Linked DNA regions of Homo sapiens. The protein of the gene in region 5 purifies or fractionates together with the protein of the main gene of each other region. This does not show direct contact. Each region holds a gene or a part of one and is shown on either strand. Other genes may lie near its edges.

Region 1 (3,500 bases), 3.8 Mb from region 5:
ACTTGCACACAGGGGTACTTTCCAGTGGTATAGGAGGTAGTCCCCAATTTTCATTATGCCATAAATGTAATTCCATCTAGTAGAGACTTATGTTTCACTTTTTTTTTCCATTTCATTTGACAGTTTGCTGATATCCATTTGAGCAGCCAGTACACAGTGCTTGGGCAACCAAGATTTTATCTTTCTTCCATTTTAAGATAAAAACTTCAGAAACACATATACCTAAGAGTGGAGAGTAATGATAGCTCTCTAAAGGGAACGAACTTCCAGATAGAATCTCTCAATGCATTTAGTAATCATCAGTCTGACAAAAAGTGACTGGAAACCTTTTTATGAGCAGTACTTTGCCTCCCAGGTATGGGAAACATGGTGATTCCCTCATCCCACTTTATAGATGAGGTCACTGAGGGATAAAGCTGTTATAAGATAGTGCAAGCTTGCACACATGGAGTTTAAACCAGTTAATAAAACAGTACTTAAAAGCAATCCATCCGTGCATGATTGCTGTACGTCCAATCCTGCCCAAGGCACCAAATTCCCATGTCTTTGTTGGTAAAGGAAAGCCAACCTTGGATTAAACACTCAGGTGACATGGACATACCTAGATGCAGCAGCAAACGCAACAGCCCGGGCAGCAGTGGCTTCTTCTAACTTCTTCCTCTTTTTCTCTTCCATTAACTGTTTCTCTACAAAACTTCGGGCTTCCTGCTCAGCTTTTAGCTTTTTCTCCAACTGGCTGATATTCTGCTTGTCTTTTTGCTTCATTTGCACAGCATTATGTAACCTATATGGAAATGATTGTCATATAAAGTCTTAAAATTACAAATGCCCACTATAAACCCTTGAGAAACATCTCTTTATCACCTTAAGGCCAATTAAACAGGAGGTTTGAACAGCAAATCAAAAATGTCAATGCCCAGAATGCCTGAGGAAAACACACTGTTATTCTTTAATAATTCCTAAACACCAATAAACAAGCTGCCTTACAAAACAGAGATTAAGACCTAGCCTCTGCTCTGTTCAAGTAAGTGATCTACAAAAGGTCATCCAGAAAACAGGGTAAAACAAATTTTGAACAGAGGGGAAGATAATTGTAGAACTAATTCTAATGTTCCAGAGCACCCTGAAAGAACTTCAGTCCCACCAAAGAACCACTGATGGGACCAGCCCCAGTGAAACTAAGGTAAGGGGTGGAAAGGGGAAGGTTTTTATTTTTCCTGAATACAATTTTGCTGTAGCCTACTACAGCTTTTCCTTTCCAGCTCAGGATGTTTGCTCACAGTGTCCCCAAATCCTCTTTTAGAGTCACAGGATGCTTAATTTCAGATAGAAATTTCAGCCATATTTCCTGCTTACTACCACCCCCAGCTTTACCTATCAGCATGAGGTGAGTTTATCACTGGGATGTTCTCTACATATCAATGCTAGAACCACCACAAATGCTGGTCAGAGGCAATGGAGAGGTTATTTGCCTGTAATGCCCTAGCTTTTGAGTTACATTCCTTAAAAATGTTGAACTCCTCTTTCAACAGGGAAAGCCCAGAAAGCCAACAGCCTGTAATGATCATCACTACCACGGGCACACATTGCTGGGAGATTTAAAAAAAGAAAAAAGGACAGACCTACACTGAGTTAAGAAGTAATTCCAGAATGAACTAATCAAAAGCCTAAATGAATTCACACAGAAGACCTGGCTTTCTGCCTGCCTTTTCAAATAAAATCAAAGTTCAATGTCATCTTTTAGTTCTGGAAATAAAAGTAAATATAGTCAAATCCTCTAGAAATTTTCACTCAAAGGAGCAAAATTTTCAAAATGTGACAGAACTACTTCTTGTCAATTTTACTATCCAAAAACTCAATAACTATTTTAAACTAAGAAGTTATTAAATGAGAGAAGACAAAAACAGTAATATTAATAAACTGTTTTGTGGCAATGAAATAAGTTTTTATAGATTTTATAAACATGTTGAATATCTGGTACTAAATAAAGTATTTTAAACATTTTATTTAAAAACCTCTCAGCAGGTCTCTGTCACCATAAATCTTGTGCTCCAACCCCTGGCAACAGGAGAAGCAGTGAAGCTGCCGGGCTTACGGCCAAAGGCCTGAAAGGTGCACGTACTTGTTCTGCAGCAGCTCGTTCTCCTGCCGAAGCTGGCCCATTTCTGAGCGGATCCCTCGCTCGGTGCTCGAAAGGGAGCTGATCTGACTGCGGAGCTCTTGTTCCACTTGTCTGCTGGCTTGCAGGTCAGCCTTTAACTTTTTAATGTCTTGTTCCAGCCTAGGAGAATGAGAAATGCAGCATTTTCATCTAGGTGAGGGCACCCACAGAGCTGGGAGGGACCTGGTGGGGGTCCTGGACTGCTGGGTGAATGGCAGAAAAAGGACCCCGCTGGCAGTTCCTGCCATGATGAGGACTCCTGTCTGCAACTGGGTTAATTTTGTTGAATGATTCCACCTGGGTCCCTACCTCTTCCTACTGGGGTGTAACTTTCAACTTCCCCCTGTTTATGAATAGTGACAGGTGAGTATGGTGCTTGTGAATATCCATCCGAGCTGCTGATAAAGGAGAAAGGGACAGCAGAGAGGGTGGCTGAAGACTAAAGGCTCCCTTCTGGTGGCTTTTCATGCCCTCAGCAAGGGAAATATGTTCAAACAACTAGCACATGACCTACCACTTAATGCTTTGTGATATTTTGATAAATCAGAATCTACTGTCTGAGACTGCGTCCCACCATGGGCCTAGAAGAAAACGGTCTGCGACGACCTCCAGAAATTGCAGCATCCTTGCTGAATGACGTTCACAACTCTGGTGATTGCGGCAGAAGAGCTCACGAGACTCAATAACAATGAAAAAAGGAACAAATTACATGCTCTAAGAATCATAAGAGAACTCCATCTGTAAAATGAAGCCTATCTTTTCTCGTCAATTCCTTACTCTTGTTCCATCTATTTTCTTTACTGCAGTAATAGTTTCACTTTAAGTGACAGGTATTGGAGACCTACTATGCATATGTAGTGCTGAAAATGGTCAACAAAAACTATCGGCCAGGCGCAGTGGCTCATGCCTGTAATCCCAGCACTTTGGGAGCCCGAGGCAGGCGGATCACCTGAGGTCAGGAGTTCAAGACCGGCCTGGCCAACGTGGTGAAACCCCATCTCTACTAAAAGTACAAAAATTAGCTGGGCATGGTGGCGCGTGCCTGTAATCCCAGCTACTCAGGAGGCTGAGGCAGGAGAATCACTTGAACCCAGGAGGTGGAGGTTGCAGTGAGCTGAGATCATGCCACTGCACTCCAGCCTGGGTGACAAGAGTGAGACTCTGTCTCAAAAAACAAAAAACAAACAAACGAAAACTATAAAATCAAGTCTCTTTCTTCATGGGAAAACTTCACAATTAGGAACAAAGAAATAGGAACCAAGAAATACATAATTTAAATGATTAAACAATAAGACAAGGAAGGCCATGATTAAATATATGCCAGAAGGAATAATAACAA
Region 2 (3,500 bases), about 17 Mb from region 5:
GGAAGGTGGGAGGGCCGGGAAAGTGGGGAAAGAGGGCCCACCTGTAAGGACCTGGTATGCAGGGCAGGGGGTCCAGCACCTGCTGTGCGCATCCCCCAACTCCTCCCAGGCTGAATGCTCACTTGTCCCCCGCCCCCAAGAGAGACATGGCTCTGCGCCAGGATATCCAAGTGGCCCCTGGGGACCTGGGGATGAGGCCAGTGACCTCTCAGCACAATGGCCAGAAAGAAGCAGCCCATTTCTCCTCCCTGGGCTCGGGCCCTGCCTGGAATTCTTCCTATCACCCCTCTGAGGATCCACCCCTCCCCGTGGGGGCTGCTCACCCAAGGCTCCATCCAGGTTCTGGAAGATACGGCAGCGGTGGTCCAGGGTGATATTGATCTGCTCCTGCAGGAAAGAAGGTACCAGACTGCAGCAGGGACAGGCCCTGGGGGAGGCTGGGGCTACATCTCACCCAGTGTGGGGAATCTGTCCCCAAGTTCAGCCCTCATTCCCCACACCGACTCTGCCACGTCACATCAGGGCAGCTAGGTGCCCAGAGAAGGCCAGCAGCCAAGCTCCTGGGGTCTACAGTCTAGTGGCTCTACTCACAGAAAACCAGGGACTCTGAACTGGAAGGAATCTAAGAATGCAGCCGGCTCACCTACAACAATGACGGCCGTTAAGAGTAACCAGCACCTGCCAAGCACTCCACTACACGCACATAGCTACTCCAAATATTCTTTTTTTTGAGAAAGAGTTTCGCTCTTGTCACCCAGGCTGGAGTGCAATGGCACGACCTCGACTCACTGCAACCTCCGCCTCCTGGGTTCAAGCGATTCTCCTGCCTCAGACTCCTGAGTAGCTGGGACTACGGGCATGTGCCACCATACCCAGCTAATTTTTTTTTTTTTTTTTTTTTTTTTTGCTAGAGATGGGATTTCACCACATTGAGCAGGCTGGTCTCGAACTCCTGACCTCAGGTGATCCGCCCCCGCCCCCCGCCTCCCAAAGTGCTGGGATGACAGGTGTGAGCCACCGCACCTGGCCGCTACTCCAAATATTCTACACGAGTCGGGTGCGGTGGCTCACTCCTGTCATTCCAGCACTTTGGGAGGCTGAGGCAGAAGGATCACTTGAGCCCAGGAGTTTGAGACCAGCTTGGGCAACATAGCAAAACTTCATCTCTATAAAAAAATCTTAAAATTAGCCAGACATGGTGACGCAGGCCTATAGTCCCAGCTACTCAGGAGGCTGAGGTGGGAGGATCGCTTGAGTCCGGGAGGCTGAGGCTGCAGTGAGCTATGTTTCTGCCACTGCGCATCAGCCTGGGTGACAGTGAGACCCTGTCTCAAATAAATAAATAAACTATTCTACATATATTAATCAATTTAATCCTGACAACATCTCTGTGAGAAAGTATTATCATTATTGCTTTTTTTTTTGAGATGGAGTCTGGCTCTTGTCACCCAGGCTGCAGTGCAATGGCACAATCTCGGCTCACTGCAACCTCCGCCTCCCAGGTCCAAGCAATTCTCCTGCCTCAGCCTCCTGAGTAGCTGGGATTACAGGCACCCACCACCACGCACGGCTAATCTTTATATTTTTAGTAGAGACAGGGTTTCATCATGTTGGCCAGGCTGGTCTCAAACTCCTGACCTCAGGTGATCCACCCGCTTTGGCCTCCAAAGTGCTGGGATTACAGGCATGAGCCACTGGGTCTGGCCCATTATTGCATTTCATAACGGAAAAAACAAGGGACAGAGAAGTTGCCCAATGTCACACAGCTAGTAAATGGTGAGCTGGGATTGGAACCCAGGCAGCCTGGCCCTGAAGTCCTTATTCTGAACCAATGAACAATGCTGCCTCTTTAAGACCCGACAGCCGGGCACGGTGGCTCACGACTGTAATCCCAGCACTTTGAGAGGCCGAGGCGGGTAAATCACCTGAGGACAGGAGTTCGAGACCAGCCTGGCGAACGTAGTGAAACCCTGTCTCTACTAAAAATACAAAAATCAGCCAAACGTGGTGGTGCACGCCTGTAGTCCCCGCTACTCGAGACGCTGAGGCTCGAGAATCGCTTGAACCAGGGAGGTAGAGGCTGTAGTGAGCCGAGATCGCACCACTGTACTCTAGCCTGGGCAATACAGTGAGACTCCATCCCAAAAATAAAAAAATAGGATTAGTGTCCTTATCAATGAGGCCCCAGTGAGCTCCCTACCCCCTTCCACCATCTGAGGACACAGAGAGAAGTCAGCTGTGTCTGTACCAGTTAGAGGGCTCTGACCAGAACCCAACTGTGATCTCACCCTTCCGGCCTCCAGAACCATGAGAAATCCACATCCGTTGTTTGGGAGCCACCCAGCCTATGGCAGTTTGTCAGAGCAGCCTGCATAGACTAAGACACCAACCCAGGGGTTCAGGCCTGAGAGGAGCTGTTCCCGTGCAGCCTGGCCGGTGGATCCCCAGCCCCCTCTCCTTGGCCCGCCCACTGCCTCTTACCCTCTTCTCCGGGTCCAAGAAGATCTTGGTGTAAAACAGCTGATCGCTGTCGCTGTCCTGGCCCTCCCACTCGGCCACCAGTTTGCTGAGGTTGGGGGCATAACCGATGAAGCCTGAAGGTTGGTGGGTGGGGACACCAAGACGGACCCTTAGCTTCCAGCCTCTAAGTCAGGGGCCTCCTCCCACCCTTCCCTCTTATCCACCTCCACTCATATGCCCACAAACCCTGTCACCTCTCAGAAGTCCTCCTGAATTGACAGGAGGTGGGGCTGCAGGTTGGAAATGGGGCTGCCAGTGAATGTCACTTATTAATGAGTTCCTAATGACCCCAAGAATAAGACCAATGGTGCCCACTAAGCTGTACTGTTCAGTGCTGGGCACCATATAGGTGGTGAAGAAACGGATTGTACGAGGAGCCCCTGGAGAGCAGGGCTGGGAGGATACAGGCCTGGTGTCCCTTTTTACAGTTATCTGGGAAACCTGGCCCAGAGAAGGGAAAGGCTGGGCCAAGCTCACAGAGTGCCTTGGGGGCTGAGACCTGGCATAGTGGGGAAGCCCACATGGGCCCCTGGCTAGAGTACAGACTGGTGACAAGCAACCACAAGAGCAATGGGACATCCCTACTCCTGGGCCTGGGCCAGGGCAAGGCCATCTGGACTGTGCTTACTCTGGACCAGTGGAAAAAAGTGTCTGTTGAGGGCAGATGGCAGATCCCCATCTAAGGTTGAAAAGAGGCCTGTGGATTTTATTCTCCGTGCAGTGGAAAGTCATTAAGTGATGTGTGTGAATTTGCATCTTTATTTATTTATTTATTTTTAAGACAATGTCTCGCTCTGTCGCCCAGGCTGGAGTGCAGTGGCACGATCTCGGCTCACTGCAAGCTCCGCCTCCCGGGTTCATGCCATTCTCCTGCCTCAGCCTCCCGAGTAGCTGGGACTACAGGCGCCTGCCACCACACCTGGCTAATTTTTTGTATTTTTAGTGGAGACGGGGTTTCATCGTGTTAGCCAGGATGGTCT
Region 3 (3,500 bases), on a different chromosome or scaffold from region 5:
CCGTCTCTACTAAAAATACAAAAAATTAGCCGGGTGCGGTGGCGGGCGCCTGTAATCCCAGTTACTCAGGAGGCTGAGGCAGGGAAATGGCGTGAACCTGGGAGGTGGAGCTTGCAGTGAGCCCAGATCGCGCTACTGCACTCCAGCCTGGGCGACAGAGCAAGACTCCGTCTCAAAAAAAAAAAAAAAAAAGAAAAAAGAAAGAAACTGGGTGGAGAGGTCTCACGGGCCCATTCCGTGTACGTGACGTCCACATCCCCAGGGTGTGGAAAGAACCTCAGGGTTTAGACTGGGGAAGAACTAGACCATTAAGCCTGGTGGTCAGGTAGCTTCGTCTAGGTATAGGTCTTTTTCTTGGGGAGGCATGAGCTAAGGCAGCTGCTCCCAGGGCTGCAGTATACTATGTCTTCTCTGGCACCAAGGAGAGGTAGTAGGGCATTGCCGTGTAATGTCTCCTTTAGGAAATCTTTCTAACAAAATTATCCTGCCATTACCCTGGGTCATGCCATCCATTCTGTGTTGTTTTCACCTGGAGCTGGGCCTTCCACCCAATTCTCTCCTTCTGGCCGTATCCTCTAACTCACAGTTAGGGATCTCTGTGGCTGCCCTTCAACAACTGGAAGCTTCCTTCTGTTTACCTCTCCCACCCCAGACAGTGGCAACCCTGAGCATACTGGGAACTCGGCGAGTAGTCTCCATCCTGGGCGTGGAAAGCCAGGCTGTGTCCCTGGCTGCCTGCCACCTGCTGCAGGTTATGTTTGATGCCCTCAAGGAAGGTGTCAAAAAAGGCTTCCGAGGCAAAGAAGGTGCCATCATTGTGGGTGAGTGGAAGCAGGTCTGGGGTCTTTTGGACGTTACTGTCATGGAAGGGATGGGGCTGAGCCAGCCAGGCCAGTTTTTTGGGGACCAGACTTGCAGCTGCAGGTTGTTTGGAATACGGTTTGGTGACATTATTTTACTCTAGATTCTCAGCAACCAAGGTGCCTCAGGACAAAGCTGGAGCTCAGTCTGGAGCCTGGGATGCGGATCCCCCCTTCCCTGTGTCTCCCTGGTTTGTTGGAGAAGTTGAAGGGTCAAACTGGGCTGGGCTGCTGTGGAGCCCACTGATGTCTTCTTGTTGTTGCCAGATCCTGCCCGGGAGCTGAAGGTCCTCATCAGTAACCTCTTAGATCTGCTGACAGAGGTGGGGGTCTCTGGCCAAGGCCGAGACAATGCCCTGACCCTCCTGATTAAAGCGGTGCCCCGGAAGTCTCTCAAGGACCCCAACAACAGCCTCACCCTCTGGGTCATCGACCAAGGTAGGTGATATAGTTCACAAAAACTTGCTTCAGCAGCTGAAGTTTGTTTATTCTTAGGAGTAATAAGAAAAGTTGTGAGTGGGGCCAGGCATGGTGGATGACACACTTTGAGAGGCAGGGGGTCACTTGAAGCCGGGAGTTTGAGATCAGCCTGGGCAACATAGCGAGACCCTGTCTCTATGAAAAATTAAAAAAAATTAGCTGGGCATGGTGGTGTGCATCGGCAGTCCTAGCTACTCCAGAGGCTGAGGTGGGAGAATTACTTAACCCTGGGAAGTCAAGTCTTCAGTGAGCTGTGATTGTACCACTGCACTACAGACTGGGCAACAGAGGGAGACTGTCTCAAAAAAAAAAAAAAAAAAAAGAAAGAAAAGTTGTGATTATCTCCAGCCACGTGTCTGCACTGAAGTGCGTCCTGTGGCCCAGGAGGATGCTGGAGCTGAGAAGATCTTCCAGAGCAATGGGATTCAGCTCTTACAACACCTTCTAGACACAAGAGCTACCCTTAGGGGGCTCAAAGTTAGACTCTTCTATCATATGCGTGTGCACATACATGCACATTGAGCGGGCCTGCAAGCAGGTTAGCAGAGAGGCTGGATTAGCTTTCTGTATTTTTTTTTTTTTGAGACAGAGTCTCACTCTGTCGCCCAGGCTGGAGTGCAGTGGCGCGATCTCAGCTCACTGCAGCCTCCGTTTCCCGGGTTCAAGCAAATCTCCTGCTTTAGCCTCCCGAGTAGCTGGGATTATAGGCACGCATCAGTATGCCCGGCTAATTCTTGTAGTTGTAGTAGAGATAGAATCTCACCATGTTGGCCAGGCTGGTCTCGAACTCCTGACCTCAAACAATGCACCCACCTTGGTCTCCCAAAGTGTTGGGATTACCGTCATGAGCCATTGTGCCCTGTTTTTTTTTTTTTTTTTTTTTTTTTGTTTGAGTGAGCATGTATTACTTCTATACTCAGAGGAAAAAATAACGGTAGATATATCAATTCATCTCTCTTTTCCCCTAAAAGATAAATAAGAGCTGGGCGTGGTGCCTCACGCCTATAATCCCAGCACTTTGGGAGGCCGAGGTGGGCAGACCACAAGATCAGGAGTTTGAGACCAGCCTGGCCGACATGGTGAAACCCCGTCTCTACTAAAAGATACAAAAAATTAGCCAGGCATGCTGGCATGCACCTGTAATCCCAGCTATTCTGGAGGCTGAGGCAGGAGAATCACTTGAACTCAGGAGGCGGAGGCTGCAGTGAGCCGAGATCGCGCCATTGCTCTCCAGCCTGGGCAACAGGGCGACTCTGTCTTAAAAAAAAAAAAGATAAATAAGAAAAGCTTTGCAAAGGCCTTGCATGAGCAGGGCCTTTCACAATGGTCCTATGAGGTGTGGATATCGTGTTCACAGTGGTCCCACGAGGTGTGGGTATCGTGTTCACAGTGGTCCCACGAGGTGTGTCTATTGTGTTCACAGTGGTCCTACGAGGTGTGGGTATCGTGTTCACAATGGTCCTATGAGGTGTGGATATTCTTTTCCCCTTAGTTTTACAGATGAGGAACCTCAAAAGCTCCAGAGCGTTTGGCCCCAGGGGCAGGGCTGGCATGCAGGCCTCACTTCTGAGGTCCTTCCCGATCCTACAGCCGCCTCCCTTAGGTAGCAGATCAGCTAAGCAGATTCTCCGGGCTGCCCTGGACACAGTTGTCAGAACTCTGTAGCCTTCTTGTCTTGCTTTTCTCCACATCTCCTAGGAAGCCTGTTTCTTTTACTTGTAGGGGTTGGAACTAGTGTTCTACTGTCTAAGCGGGGTGTCTTTACAGGTCTGAAAAAGATTTTGGAAGTGGGGGGCTCTCTACAGGACCCTCCTGGGGAGCTCGCAGTGACCGCAAACAGCCGCATGAGCGCCTCTATTCTCCTCAGCAAGCTCTTTGATGACCTCAAGTGTGATGCGGAGAGGGAGAATTTCCACAGACTTTGTGAAAACTACATCAAGTAAGGAAGTCTGTTTCACCTCCCGTTGCCAGGGATTCTAGCGAAAAAGTTCTGACTCCTTGAGGAGGGGCAGAAATGAAAGGTTTCCAGCAGAAACAGTAATCTTGGGGAGGACTAGTTGGAGGCTGAACAAAGGGAAAGTGGCCCCAAGGCCCACTTCCTGCTCCAAAGTGGCCTCCGCAGGGAGGTTCTTTCTCAAGTCAATGTTCCAATAATGCAAC
Region 4 (3,500 bases), on a different chromosome or scaffold from region 5:
CTGCGACTACAGGCACATGCCACCATGCCTGGCTAATTTTGTTGTACTTTTCGTAGGGACAGGGTTTCGCCATGTTGCCCAGGCTGGTCTTGAACTCCTGAGCTCAAGCGATCGGCCTCCCTTGGCCACCCAAAGTGCTGCGATTACAGGCATGAACCTCCACACGTGGCCAAGTATTTTTTGCATAAAGTTTAAAACGGATAAAAAATGTATCTGCAACCATAAAGTCTAAGGGTTTTAGCTACCTTCTTTCATTACTTCTGTAGAACATCCAGATGATTTTACTTACTCTTGATAAACTTGGTTGTTTTGGAATTCTGAAGTCTCTGGAATAGCAGAATGAAGATTTGTTTCCTATATTGGTCAACTGATTCACTAAAGAATTAAAAAAAATCAACAATATAAATTTAGGACTTTTCTGAGCACCTAACAAAATTTCTAAATAAATGCACAAAGTTCTAGTCATACTCACGGAGGCATGTGCTCTATTATACTGTTTAGAAGATAAAAACCTTGGTGGTCATTTGCTTTGGATGCAATCAGCTTCTGAAAGACACCTAGTAACCCAGGCTGTTAAGAAATGAGATCCAACAGAAAATGGTTAACAGGAATAATTATTCGAAAAGTTAAACATGATATATGTCTTAAAACAGAGTTCATACTGTAATAATCTATCCTTTTCTCTTTAATTATTTCTGAAACATATGGGGAACAATTCCTCCCGCGTAGCCATTAAAGTAATTTTTTTTTTCTTTGAGACGGAGTTTCACTCTTGTTGCCCAGGCTAGAGTGCAATGGGGCGATCTTGGCTCACTGCAACCTCTGCTTCCCAGGTTCAAGCGATTCTCCTGCCTCAGCCTTCTGAGTAGCTGGGATTACAGGCACGTGCCACCACACCCACCTAATTTTTATTTTTAGTAGAGACGGGGTTTCGCCATGTTGGCCAGGCTGGTCTTGAACTCCTGACCTCAGGTGATCTGCCCACCTCGGCCTCCCAAAGTGCTGAGATTACAGGTGTGAGCCACCACGCCCGACCAAAGTTAAGTTCTTAAAATCAACCTGTTTGGCTCTGTTTTTAAAATTTTCCATCATGGATATAAATAACTAAAGGATACAGAATTCTGATAAAACATACCATAACATTTTCTACTAATTATTTCCGTTATTATTATTATTATTTTTTTTAAGAGACAGGGTCTAGCTCTGTTGCCCAGGATGGAGTGCAATGGTGAGATCATGGCTCACTGCAGCCTTAAACTCCTGGGCTCAAGCGACCCTCTCACCTTAGCCTCCCAAGTAGATGGGACCACAGGCATGCTCCACTGTGTCCAACTAATTAAAAAGCTTTTTTTTCCTTTGTAGAGATAGATCTCACCACGTTGCCTAGGCTGGTCTTAAACTCCTCGGCTCAAGGGATCCTCCCACTAGAGGCTCCCAAAGTGGTGGGCTTGAGCCACTGCCCCCAGCCTTAAATTTATTTTAAATAAAAAAATTTCAAACATCTGCCATCCCCAGTTTCTCCAAGCTACTTTATAAAATTACAGTTATATCAAAACCTGACGCACAATTTTGTCAGCTGCAGCACTTGCTATTGTGTTTGAACCGCGTTCTAAGAATGCTTGAAGAAGCCTCACTAGAGCAGGAATATTTCCTGTTCTTTCCCAAAGCACTGGCTGAAGGAGATGAGGAAATAAGGCCATATAGGAAGACGGGATGTCATTTTTGTGTGTTTCCAGAAGCAAAGACATCACTTGAAAGACGTATGGAATAAATTCTGTTGATAAAAGTAAAAACAGAGCTGTGAGCTTCAGAAGGAATGACTGACACAAAAGGCCCACATCGCTTAGGTGGGCTGCATTTTATAGCCATGTTAATTTTATTCCATTACAAAGAAAATAATTTCCGTTAACTTACCTTGCACATCATTTTGTAAGATTTCAGTAAACACCAAAAACAAAGCCTCCTCAAAATTTACAACAGCAGCAGGGTTAGCTTTGCAAGTTATTCTTATGGATAAACATATTGCTTCAAACATGTAGTGATTAAAGTGAGGTTTGCTTGGGTTCTGAAATTAAAAAAAAAAAACCTAATTATGCTAATAATCCACACCTAACCTTTATAAAACACATTTAAAATAGAGGCCATCTTATTTTTTAAAAATCAAAATTAAGAAAAAAACACCAATTATACCCTAGTGCTTGTTCATTTGAATTTTTTTTTAAATGGCCCAAAGTCCACCATGAAAAAAATACTTCAGAGTTACAGAGTTGCTTATACAAACCTCAGATCCCAGAGCTGTAACTTGTCTTAAGCCCACGTGCCCTCGCAGAGAAGAAATACTAAGTCCTAGTAATGCCACTAGCCTTAACTTCTGTGGGCCTCAATGTCTATGTCTACTTACTGATAATCCCCCAAATGAGTAGTTTTTTATGTTCTTTTTAAGCAACAAAACCCCATTTTTCTTTAAACAAGTTCTTGGAAGGCTACTAGCATACAAATCTAACTCAATCAGAACATGAGATGGTAATACATATGGGAGGCGGAGACTTGGGTTCCCTCCCCGCTCCATCCCTCAAGGCCCTAAGTAGTCCAAAGACCCTTAGCCCTAACTCAGTTGAATAATAATCACTCTGTTCTCCAAAATCCCTCCAACACTTCCTATGAATTGATCTAATTCTCATAAGATCAAGAATAGCATCTAAAAAGGAATTCTGTCAGCCTTAAACGGATTTATTTTCTAAAATTTAGTGTTAATAAACATGAATCTAAGTATCTGTAAAATTTTGATCAGAGTGAACTTTCCTTTTGAGAAATAAGAGTAAGGAAGAAAAGACAACACAAAGGATTTTAATCATCATTTCATAGAAGTCCAGACAGCCTCTTTTATATCCATTTAGTGCAAAGCCTACTTAACTCCATTTAAGGTAATTTTGGATCATCTGCACTTTCTTTTTCTACAATAAACATGTTACTTTTGTAATGAGAATGAAAATGTATTCAAGCTTCTAGCACACACTTAAAGGTGACTGCTATTACGTCTCCAATCTAACAGCATGCCCACACTTTCAGAAAAGTCCATTAGTGGCTGGTCAGGAAGAATTCACAGACCTTCTCTAAAGCTTCACGTAATGCCAAAGAGTTCTGAGGCCCAAACAGTTTGGAGCAAATAAAAAAGGAACCCCACTTTCAAAATTGGCTCTATTACCTTACTAACAGCTAATAGCTTCTGTGTAAGCTGAGTGATGAGAGTAGGGATGTAGGGGATTATGGCTTCTTGTAGGAGAGAAAAACTTCTCATGATAGCTGTAAAATACAAAAACAGCAAAAACAAATAGAGTTTAGTTAAACTTCAGAATAAGAGAGCGACTGGGGGGAAAAAAGCGCACTAATTCATCAACTAAATTTTAAGATGCTTAGACAACCCCGAGATAGCTCTCTACATTTAAAAATAATCTAAATTTCCCTTCCTTTTAAAATTAGGACGGGTTGGCAACAAAATT
Region 5 (3,500 bases):
ACATGCCCAGGGTCATGCAGCCATCTTGCCGCTCCCCTCCCACCAAGCCTGCCCCCACCTAGCCTTGCAATCATCATCCTGAGGGACCCTGACCAGTGCTGCTCACAGGATCCCTCAAGAGGACAAGAAAGAAAGGGTTCCCAACCCATCCCAGACTCAGTGGCATAAGGGCCCTGAGGCTCTAGCAACAGGCAAAAGGCCCTGCAGACCCCGTGACTTTTTCCTGGGTCTTCCCTGAGGGTCTGGGAATCAGCCCAGGGCAGGATTTGCAGTGGCAAATACAGGGAAGACAAAGCAGAAGAGGAGAGGATACAGTGGGGAGTGAGGAGGTGAGGGACTGCCATGGTCACCCAGGCAGCCCACTCTCTTCCTAGGGAACTGACTAGGACCCTCACACCCCCCCCACCTAAAGGCTGTCACCCTCTCCCAGAGCATGTACCTTCGTGGAAGGAAGGGGTGGACCAGAAGGGCAGGGAGGCTCTATAACTTCTAGAAAAGGTACAGGCACAGCAGATAGACCTGGCTTCCAAATCCCAGCTCCACCACTTACTAGCTGTGTGGCCTTGAGGGCAAGTGATTCAGGCTCTGAGTCAGTTTCCCGATATGTAAAATGAAGGTAATAATACCCATGCCACAGGGCTGCCATGAGGATAAATGGCTTCATGCAGATAAAGCCCCTAGCACGGGGTCTGGCTAACAGTACGTGCACACAGTTGCACAAACACCCTCACACTCTCACACACATGCACACTTATGTCTCCCATATACGCCTCTCACACACACTCACACCACACATCCCATGTCTTTATCACAAAGACACACCCAGTTTCACATCCCACATACACACACACACACACACACACACACACACAGTCTTGTCTCCAGCACCCTCTCCCCAGCAGAGGCAGCCACCACGGCACCAGCAAGCCCAGCTTCCTCTGGGGAGAGGAGGTGGAGAAGCCAAGCTCCTAGCCATTCCAGAGAGATGGCCCTATCTGGCTGGCTGCCCCAGCCTTCTAGAAAGCCCATCTCTGTGCTTCCAGGAAAAGGCTGGGATGATATAAGGCCCCCAGAGTTTCACTTCTCCAAGGTGTCTGAGGAAAGGCCCCCTGGACAGGCCTGGACAGTCCCCTCTCCAGGCTGGACCTATCCAGGGTCCTCCTGACAGTCACCATCTGAGACCCATGGCCTCAGAGGGGAGGGACTGCAGGCTTCTTGCCTGCCAAGCATCACAGAACAATCTCCTCCAGACACTCCAAGCCCTGCGTGGGAGACTGAGGGAGGAAAAGGGTGAGCTGGCCTGGGATGGGGCTCTGGGTCAGAGGAGGGGCCTCTTTCCTAAGGCCCTGGACTCCCACCCCTCCGTCCCCGCTTTCCCACCTGATGGGCGCACCGCGGCCCTGTGCCGGCCTCAGCAGCACGGTGATGGTGTTCTCAGACTCGCCCAGGGGTGACGGCATGTCGGCATAATCAAAGCTGGGAGCTGGAGAAGGGGACAGGGTCACAAGCTGGAGCTTGGCCACTGGACCAGGAAGACCAGGCTTCCAGCCTCCTTGACCACAGTCCTCAGATCTCCCCTACTTCAGCCTTAGCCTCTTTGTTCCTGCTGACATGACCTGAGCTACCCTGGCCCCTGACCTCAGGCACCAGCCCCAACCTCAATCTTCTGATTCCACTGACCAGTCTCCTGACTCCTCTGACTTCATCCTCCCTGAGCCTGACTTTAACTCCTAAATGGCATATTTATCTCAGCAGGGGCCCTCTGTAACTACCCCCAGGATGCCCCCCATTTCCCTTCTGCCCATGGAACCCTGGGATTCTGGGCCACCTCCGAAGAGGCTGGGCCGGGTCAGGTGGGGCTCACCAGAGATGTTAGTGGTTATCTCAGTGAGTGCCGCCTGGCCGAAGCCTTTGCCTGTGCGGGCCCGCACGGAGAACAGGTAGGTGGTGCCTGGGTGCAGGTTGGAGAAGACATGGTAGGTCTCATTGCGGAGCTTGGAGATGGTACGTCGTGGGCCTGGCACGTTCACTGCCGGGTCTGATGACTCGATGCTCTGGTAGCTGATCTGGGGGCAGGATTGGCAGGCAGGTGGGCACTGGATGGTCAGAGCATCCCTGACCAGCAGCCTCCACCCACCATGTCCCAGGGAAGTGAGAGATAAGGCTAAGCAAAGGAGACTATGGATGCCATCAAGCCAGGCTTCTAGTCATCTTCGGCTCTCCCTCCTGCCTTCAGGACCCTCCTCTAGAATACACAGGGCACAGACCTGGCCATAGTTGAAGAAACTATGACAATCACATCTGTCCTCCCATGCACCTCCTACTGTAGCAGCAGAGAGAAAGAGGGCCACCTCTCACCTTCCACCAGGGTCCCCCACTGTAATAGGGTCCCAAACCCACCTCATACTGGGTGATGAGACCATTGGGCTCCTGGGGCTCCTCCCACTTGAGGAAGATCATGTCCTCCAGTGGAGTGAAGGTCAGGGACTCGGCTGCAATCCCACTGGGCACTGCAAGGGAAAGGCAGCAGGGGCCAGGGGAAAGTGGGCTTTGGTGCCAGACACCTGGGTTTAAATTCCAGCCTTGCCGCTTCCTACCTGGTTCTCATGGACTATTCAGCCTCTCTGCACCTTACTTAACTCAGCTGTGAAGTGGGAATGATATAACCCCTCTCAAGCCAGGACTCAAATGATGTGATGTACATAAAGCCCCAAGGCAAACATCAGCAATTGCATATGGTTCAACCTATTACTAAGTACTCAAAATGGATAGCTGGCATTTTCATTACTGTGTAGGTTGCATTCAGGAGAGAAATACGTTTGAAGGCTCCAATTTTGTTCCAGTTGGGTAGTTTTCAGAAAATATGCACATGGGCCAGAGAAATGAAAACAGCAATTGCATTGCGGTATTGGGATTATGGGTGGCGATATTTTCTCGTCTAAAAATTTCTAATTACATAAATGACATGTTCAATGTAGAAAATCAAAATGAGCTTAAAGAAAATTAATGGCATCTACAATTGTATCACCCAGAGATACTGTTAACATTTTAGCATTAACACTTGCAGGCATGGCTTTGTTTTGTTTTTCTTGTGTAAATGTATACTGTTAATGGCAGGCACAGGAGTGTCATTTAGGAAGAGAATGATCTTTGCTTGGGAAAATACCTTGATAAACCACTATGGGGAAGCTGAAGTCCTAAGGCAGAGAAAAGCAGAAAGTAAAGAAGGAGCTGAATTTTGAATCTAGGCCAATGCTGTGCAGAACAGAAAACTGTGCACGTGCGGCAGCAAGACAAAGCCATAAACCAAGGAGCTTAGTGGTAACTGGAATCTGTAGGAACCCAGGGAAAGGCTTTGGACCTGTGATAGCATTCGAGTGTAGCTCTTAAGAAGGACAACTGGCTGGGCACGGTGGCTCACGCATGTAATCCCAGCACCTTTGGGAGGCCGAGGCAGGCGGATCACTTGAGGTCAGGAGTTCGAGACCAGCCTGGCCAAC
Region 6 (3,500 bases), on a different chromosome or scaffold from region 5:
ATATGATACAGTGCCAGGCATGAAGCACTCAATAAATGGTAGCTATTATTATTTTTCCATACTTTCTTCAAATATCTAAATTCTAACCAAGCTGGATTGTCTTCTTTTACTCCTTCCTCCCCTCCCACCTTCTTCTTTAATATTTGGATCCACTGCTTCTCAACTCTTTTAGGATCAAAAATCCATTTCTAAATGTGACTAAAAAAAAAAAAAGACTATGTACCCAGAAAAATGCATATTTGCATAGAGACCTTTCACATATGTTAGAGTTTCTACCCCCTGAAGCCCATTCAGATTAATAATGGGATGAGAATCCCTCCTTTAAGACAAGTTACACCTAAGCTAATGCTGAATCTTTTATACAAAAAGGACTGAAATAAGCTTCAGTTGCATCTCAGAAGAAATATAAACTCACTATCCTAGAGTTGAAAGAAATGAAAGGAATGAAGAAAGATGGGGAGGAGGCCACAGAAATTTGTTTCTACCTCACTTCTCCCCTTCTCCATATCAGAACCATTAATGCCACGGCAGGCCTTACCCTTAAAAAGAAAGCAGAACAGAGGTTATGGTGGCTACCTAGAAAAGGGTTAACACAGCAGGCCTGAGACTACTGTCCTTAAAAAGGCCTGCCTGTCTTTGGCTGGTATCTGAAAACTTAACTGGTAAACAGTTCCCTACACTGATATAAACCTTTCCTTATATAACAGTGGCTCACTACTGAAGTAATGTGGTTTAATTATAACATATGCTTTCCTTTTGGGAGTATGAAATAATTTTGGTACATGAGGGTGCCGAAATGACTAACCTCCGATGAAAACCTTAGGAGCTGAGTCTCTAACAAGCAGCTTGTTGCTGGAGGAATTAAATGTGCCCAGTAGAGTCTACTGGGAATGAACTAGTGGAAAAACGTGAGCCTGGTTTCCTTCAGACTTCATACCATGTACCATTTCCTTTTGTGATTTTGCTTTATCCTTTCATTGTAATAAATCTTAGTTGTAAGGTGTTTTTTTGTTGTTGTTGTTGTTTTTTTAAATAACAAATCCCTATCACAGCTGGAGCTTTTACAAAGAATCTATTCTCGCAACAAAGAATTTGACCTCACCCTGCTTGGACTGGCTACATTTTTCTCTGCCAGGTCTACTTTGGTCAAAACGAATATGGTTCTCCTTCCATGAGGGTCCATTTGACTGACCAAGTCTGTAACAATACTGCGTTCAGCATCCACAGATCCATCTGAAAAAAATAAAAAAATGACACTGTGGAATTTTAAGATGTAAAGTAGACTTTTAAAACTCAGTACAAATTATACCCCTGTGTCTACATTATAGCAAGAAAGATTTTAATACATTTACGTTATTTACTAAAAAGAAATCCTAGCCGATAAAAATTTCAATGATGCTTATGTAAAACTTATCAAAATAATTTCAACTTCAATTTAATTTACTAATAAAATGAATACGAAGAGAAGGCAAAAATGCATTTATCTTGTATGTTTACATAACACAAACTATTTAATGCAAAGCTTGGATTGCTAAAGAAGAAAACATATCAGTACATTAAAATCTTTTGATATGATTTACCTTGAATACACAGTATGATGGCATTAGGATTCTGCATGTAAGCTTTGCTGATACTGAAAATAGTTTCCTTTGTGTCAGGAGCCATGCCTGATGTCACAGTCTTAAAGAAAAAGGTTTTAAATGTCATTATAAATGCTTCACACAATAAGAATAAAATAAAATACATGTTTTGTATATACTTACATTAATCACACCTGGTAAGTCAACAAGCACCATCCTCTGTAGTCCAGGGCCTTTTACATTTAAGGATATGGTCTACTCAGGAAAAATAAAAATAAAACAATGCTAAAGTTTGGGGGGAATTTGTCAAGAATTTTTTTTGGTGAAATGTATTCTAAAAATTCTATATCTCATCCATTCAGATAAGACGCTCACAAAAATGGTATTCTTTCTCTGATCCTAAAAGTAATTATTCTGGAAAATTACCCACAAAATGATATATTATTTGGATTTTTTTTTAAAAGCTCTACATATCTAGATAGCAGCAATCTAAACATCAATACCTAGATTTTGATTTATTTGAAATCATAAACATTTAATTTCCATAAAACGTCACTGAAATGAATTGCAACCCTTACCTCAGGGCTAACGGTACAGCCTTCTTTCACATTTTTCCTCATTCGAAGTTCTATTTCATGTCTTAATGCTGCAAGCTAATGGAAAACACAAAATCCTAAGAAAATCTAAGAAAATCTTAATTCACAAATATTCTTTAACTGTCTTTTATAAGCTCATCCAGGTTATAAAATTACACATATCAACCTTAGATGAATTTTACTTACATCTTCTTCTTTGGTAAGATCAAACTCCCGAGAACTATCTTTAAATAGGGCCACATGGTGAGGACCTTCACTCAGAGTCACCTGATAGTAACAGAAAACTGAGAGGTAATGATGTATTTATAAGTAATATTAATTCCCACAGCCCGTATGTGGTCTAGACAGGGCTACTGCATTGCACAAATCCAAGAGTCCCTTCACACTACTGCTGGGGCACCCCCTGAAGCTGTCAACATGGTAGTTCTGACAAGACAATAATTTTGTATTTGTATTGTTTGTATATATGTCATATATGTTGTGATTTCCCAACAAGAATGCTGGTTCCTTTATATCGCTTATGACCTAAAATGCTGCTGCCTCTTTCTTTCCCCAGTCAATGCTATACACAGCACTAAGCCCAAAATCATCTCTCTAAAACTTGAAACACTAAAAGGAAACCTTGCATTTAACCTCAAAGATGAATTTAGGTAAAGGACAATTCATTCATTCAACCTCTATAGAGAGTGAACTATGTGTCAGGTGTTGTAGGTGGGGAAACACAGAGCTGACTGTCCCAGTTTTAGACCTCATCACATGCTGGGAGAAATATACACAGACATAATAGAAGAGAGTGACAAAACCTAGGGTGCCACAGAAGAGAATGGAACTGATGATAAGGGAGCTACGACAGGCTTCACTCAAGGAGTGATATTTGGGTAAGAAATTTTGTTTTGTTTGTTTTTTTGTTTGTTTTGAGACCGAGTCTCATTCTGTCGCCCAGGCTGAAGTGCAGTGGCATGATCTCGGCTCACTGCAACCTCCACTTCGCGGTTTCAGGTGATTCTCCTGCCTCAGCCTCCCGAGTAGCTGGGATTACAGATGCCCGCCACCACACCTGGCAAGTTTTTTGTACTTTTAGTAGAGACAGGGTTTCGCCATGTTGGCCAGGCTGGTCTTGAACTCTTGACCTCAGGTGATCCGCCCTCCTCAGCCTCCCAAAGTGCTGGGATTACAGGCATGAGCCACTGCACCCAGCCAAGAAATGTTATAGCAATGTATATTAACAGTCAGTGGTTTCACAAGAACTTCTAAATGCCTAATTGACACCTTTCTAGCTTCTCTATAGTTATTTTACTTTAAAAATACAATTCCTTCTACTGAG
Region 7 (3,500 bases), on a different chromosome or scaffold from region 5:
GAGACTCTTTTGCCTATGAAAAGAGGAGTGAAAAGTGGGAAGCACTTTGCCTTATGGTTTGGATGCCAGCTCAGCTGCAGGAGAATAGAGGACCAGATAGGGTTCTAAGGTTTCCAACTCCAGATGCTGGCTCCCAGATGGCATCTCTGGACCTGCCTGGGGCCCAGGGGAACTTGCTTGCTGTCCTGAAGGGATGGATAAAAGCCTGACTGGCTTTGCCACCTGCTCATTATAGAGCCCTAGAACTTTGAGCCAACACAGGAGGTAGCCAGGTAGGGGTTACACTGGGCCTTGGGTGAGATCCAGTGCTATGCTGGTTTCAGGTCTGGTCTAGTGTAGTTCCAGTGGTGGTAGCCACAAAAGTGCTTGTGTCACCACTCCCCCAACTACAAGAGGCTTGGAGCACAGAATCAGAGACTCGTTTGTTTGGGACAAAGTAAGGGAAGAGAACAAGAGTCTCTGCTTGGTAATCCAGAGAATTCTTCTAGACCTTATCTAAGACCACAAAGGTAGTACCTCTGCAAGTCTGTAAGAACCACAGCATTATCGGGCTTGGGGTGCCCCCTAATGTAGATATGGCTGCAATGACCAAAACTGGATCACAACAGCCAACTCCCTTCAAATATCTGGAAAGCCTTTCTAAGACAGGTACAAAAGAGTTCAGATTGTGAAGACTACGATAAATACCTTCAATGCCCAGACACCAATGAACACCCACAAGCATCAAGACCATCCAGGAAAACATGGCCTTGAAAAACAAACTAAATAAGGCACCAGGGACCAAATCCTGAAGAAACATAGATATGTGACCTTTCAGAGAGGGAATTCAAAAGAGCTATTTTGAGGAAATGCAAAGAAGTTCAAGATAACACAAAGAAGGAATTCAGAATCCTATCAGATAAAGTTAACAAAGAGGTTGAAACAATTAAAAGGAATCAAGCAGAAATTCTGGGGTTGAAAAATGCAGCTGACATACTGAGTCTCTTAATAGAAGTCATCAAGCAGAAGAAAGAATTGGTAAGCTTAAAGACAGGCTATTTGAAAATACACTGTCAACAGAGACAAAAGAAAAAAGAATGAAAAACAATGAAGCATGCCTATAAGATCTAAATAATAGTTTCAAAAGGGCAAATCTAACAGTTATTGGCCTTAAGAAGGAGGCAGAGAGAGATAGGAACAGAACGTTTATTCAAAGGGATGAAACAGAGAACATCCGAATTCTAGACAAAGATATCAATATTCAAGTACAAGAAAGTTATACATCAACCAGATTTAACCCAAAGAAGACTACCATTCAAGGCATTTAATAACCAAACTTCCAAAGGTCAAGGATAAAGAAAGGATCCTAAAAGCAGCAAAAGAAAAAATAAATAACATACCATGGAGCTCCAATATGTCTGACAGCAGACTTTTCAGTGGAAACATTACAGGCCAAAAGAGAGTGGTATGACATAAACTACTGAGGGAAAAAAAACTTTTACCCTAGAATAGTATATCCAGTGAAAACATCCTTCAAGCTTAAAGAAGAAATAAAGACTTTCCCAGACAAACAAAAGCTGAGAGATTTCATCAACATCAGACCTGTTCTACAAGAAATGCTAAGGGGAATCCTTCAATTTGAAGGAAAAAAGGTGTTAATGGGCAATTAAAAAATGATCTGAAGGTACCTCACTGGTCATACTAAGCATACAAAAAACCACATAATTTTATAACACTGTAATTGTGGTATGTAACCTATTGATATCTTAAGTAAAAGACTAAAAGATGAACCGATCAAAAATAACTACAACTTTTCAAGACATACTTGGTACCATAAGATATAAATAGAAATAACAGAAAGTTAAAAAGTTGGGGGGACAAAGTACAGAGTATTTATTAGACTTCTTTTTGATTGCATGTTTGTTTATGCAATCGGTGCCAAATTGTCATCAGTTTAAAATAACGAGCTATAAGTTATTTGCAAGCCTCATGATAATCTCAAATCAAAAAACATACAATGAATACACAAAAAATAAAAAGCAAGAAATTAAAACAAACCACCAGAGAAAATCACCTTCACTAAAAGGAAAATAGAAAGGAAGGAAAGAAGGAAGAGAAGACCACAAAATAACCAGAAAACAAATAACAAAATGGCAGGAGTAAGATCTTACTTATTATTAATAACACTAAATGTAAACAAACTGAATTCTCCAATCAAAAGACATAGAGTGGCTGAATAGCTAAGAAACACAAAATTCAATGATCTGTTACCTACAAGAAACATACTTCACCTATAAAGACACACAGACTAAAAATAAAGGGATGGAAAAAGATATTTCATGCCAATGAAAACCAAAAAAGAGCAGGAGTAGCTATACCTGTAATAGACAAAATAGATTTCAAGAAAAAAAAACTATAAAAAGGGACAAAGAAGGAGGTGAGGAGCGCCTCTGCCTGGCCGCCCCGTCTGGGAACTGAGGAGTGCCTCTGCCAGGCCGCCCCGTCTGAGAGGTGAGGAGCGCCTCTGCCTGGCAGCTGCCCCGTCTGGGAAGTGAGGAGCATCTCTGCCCAGCCGCCCCGTCTGGGAAATGGGGAGCGCCTCTGCCCGGCTGCCCCGTCTGGGAAGTGGGGAGCGCCTCTGCCCGGCCGCCCCGTCTGGGAGGTGAGGAGCGTCTCTGCCCGGCCGCCCATCGTCTGGGATGTGAGGAGCGCCTCTGCCCGGCCGCCCTTCGTCTGGGAGGTGAGGAGCGCCTCTGCCCGGCCGCCCCGTCTAGGAAGTGAGGAGCGCCTCTGCCCAGCTGCCCTGTCTGGGATGTGAGGAGCCACCTCTGCCCAGCTGCCCCATCTGGGAGGTGAGGAGAGTCTCTGCCTGGCCGCCCCGTCTGGGAAGTGAGGAGCGTCTCTGCCCGGCTGCCCTGTCTGGGAGGTGAGGAGTGCCTCTGCCCGGCCGCCCATCGTCTGGGAAGTGAGGAGCGCCTCTGCCCGGCCGCCCCGTCTGGGAGGTGAGGAGCGCCTCTGCCCGGCCGCCCCGTCTGGGAGGTGAGGAGCGCCTCTGCCCGGCCGCCCCGTCTGGGAGGTGAGAAGCGCCTCTGCCCGGCCGCCCCATCTGGGAAATGAGGAGCGCCTCTGCCCGGCTGCCCGTCGTCTGGGAAGTGGGGAACGCCTCTGCCCGGCCGCCCCATCTGGGAAGTGGGGAGCACCTCTGCCCGGCCACCCCGTCTGGGAAGTGTGGAGCGCCTCTGCCCGGCCACCCCGTCTGGGAAGTGTGGAGCACCTCTGCCCGGCCGCCCCGTCTGGGAAGTGGGGAGTGCCTCTGCCCGGCCGCCCCATCTGGGAAGTGGGGAGCGCCTCTGCCCGGCCGCCCCGTCTGGGAGGTGAGGAGCGCCTCTGCCCGGCCGCCCCGTCTGGGAAGTGAGGAGCGCCTCTGCCCGGCCGCCCCGTCTGGGAAGTGAGGAGTGCCTCTGCCTGGCTGCCCCATCTGGGAGGTGTACCCAACAGCTCCAAAGAGACAGCGACCATCG

Evidence for each region.
Region 1: the proteins of PTPRU (region 5) and MACO1 purify together in Homo sapiens (affinity purification with mass spectrometry, with the first as the bait; one large-scale study listed by BioGRID). This does not show direct contact.
Region 2: the proteins of PTPRU (region 5) and PLOD1 purify together in Homo sapiens (affinity purification with mass spectrometry, with the first as the bait; one large-scale study listed by BioGRID). This does not show direct contact.
Region 3: the proteins of PTPRU (region 5) and UNC45A purify together in Homo sapiens (affinity purification with mass spectrometry, with the first as the bait; one large-scale study listed by BioGRID). This does not show direct contact.
Region 4: the proteins of PTPRU (region 5) and CSE1L purify together in Homo sapiens (affinity purification with mass spectrometry, with the first as the bait; one large-scale study listed by BioGRID). This does not show direct contact.
Region 6: the proteins of PTPRU (region 5) and OPA1 purify together in Homo sapiens (affinity purification with mass spectrometry, with the first as the bait; one large-scale study listed by BioGRID). This does not show direct contact.
Region 7: the proteins of PTPRU (region 5) and FUT8 purify together in Homo sapiens (affinity purification with mass spectrometry, with the first as the bait; one large-scale study listed by BioGRID). This does not show direct contact.

The regions. Positions count from the first base shown.
Region 1 is NC_000001.11:25,482,897-25,486,396, reverse strand, and holds part of MACO1 (macoilin), read right to left. Parts: intron 2,282-3,500; coding exon 2,123-2,281; intron 785-2,122; coding exon 602-784; intron 1-601. UniProt on the Homo sapiens protein: Plays a role in the regulation of neuronal activity.
Region 2 is NC_000001.11:11,951,717-11,955,216, reverse strand, and holds part of PLOD1 (procollagen-lysine,2-oxoglutarate 5-dioxygenase 1 isoform 2 precursor), read right to left. Parts: intron 2,595-3,500; coding exon 2,482-2,594; intron 388-2,481; coding exon 324-387; intron 1-323. UniProt on the Homo sapiens protein: Part of a complex composed of PLOD1, P3H3 and P3H4 that catalyzes hydroxylation of lysine residues in collagen alpha chains and is required for normal assembly and cross-linkling of collagen fibrils.
Region 3 is NC_000015.10:90,941,785-90,945,284, forward strand, and holds part of UNC45A (protein unc-45 homolog A), read left to right. Parts: intron 1-652; coding exon 653-821; intron 822-1,127; coding exon 1,128-1,298; intron 1,299-3,107; coding exon 3,108-3,279; intron 3,280-3,500.
Region 4 is NC_000020.11:49,087,812-49,091,311, reverse strand, and holds part of CSE1L (exportin-2), read right to left. Parts: intron 3,304-3,500; coding exon 3,206-3,303; intron 2,066-3,205; coding exon 1,915-2,065; intron 1,775-1,914; coding exon 1,566-1,774; intron 571-1,565; coding exon 473-570; intron 376-472; coding exon 290-375; intron 1-289. UniProt on the Homo sapiens protein: Export receptor for importin-alpha. Mediates importin-alpha re-export from the nucleus to the cytoplasm after import substrates (cargos) have been released into the nucleoplasm.
Region 5 is NC_000001.11:29,278,022-29,281,521, reverse strand, and holds part of PTPRU (receptor-type tyrosine-protein phosphatase U isoform 1 precursor), read right to left. Parts: intron 2,511-3,500; coding exon 2,401-2,510; intron 2,067-2,400; coding exon 1,865-2,066; intron 1,484-1,864; coding exon 1,381-1,483; intron 1-1,380.
Region 6 is NC_000003.12:193,641,708-193,645,207, reverse strand, and holds part of OPA1 (dynamin-like GTPase OPA1, mitochondrial), read right to left. Parts: intron 2,444-3,500; coding exon 2,363-2,443; intron 2,234-2,362; coding exon 2,159-2,233; intron 1,836-2,158; coding exon 1,764-1,835; intron 1,681-1,763; coding exon 1,581-1,680; intron 1,234-1,580; coding exon 1,103-1,233; intron 1-1,102. UniProt on the Homo sapiens protein: Dynamin-related GTPase that is essential for normal mitochondrial morphology by mediating fusion of the mitochondrial inner membranes, regulating cristae morphology and maintaining respiratory chain function.
Region 7 is NC_000014.9:65,716,730-65,720,229, reverse strand, and holds part of FUT8 (alpha-(1,6)-fucosyltransferase), read right to left. Parts: intron 1-3,500. UniProt on the Homo sapiens protein: Catalyzes the addition of fucose in alpha 1-6 linkage to the first GlcNAc residue, next to the peptide chains in N-glycans.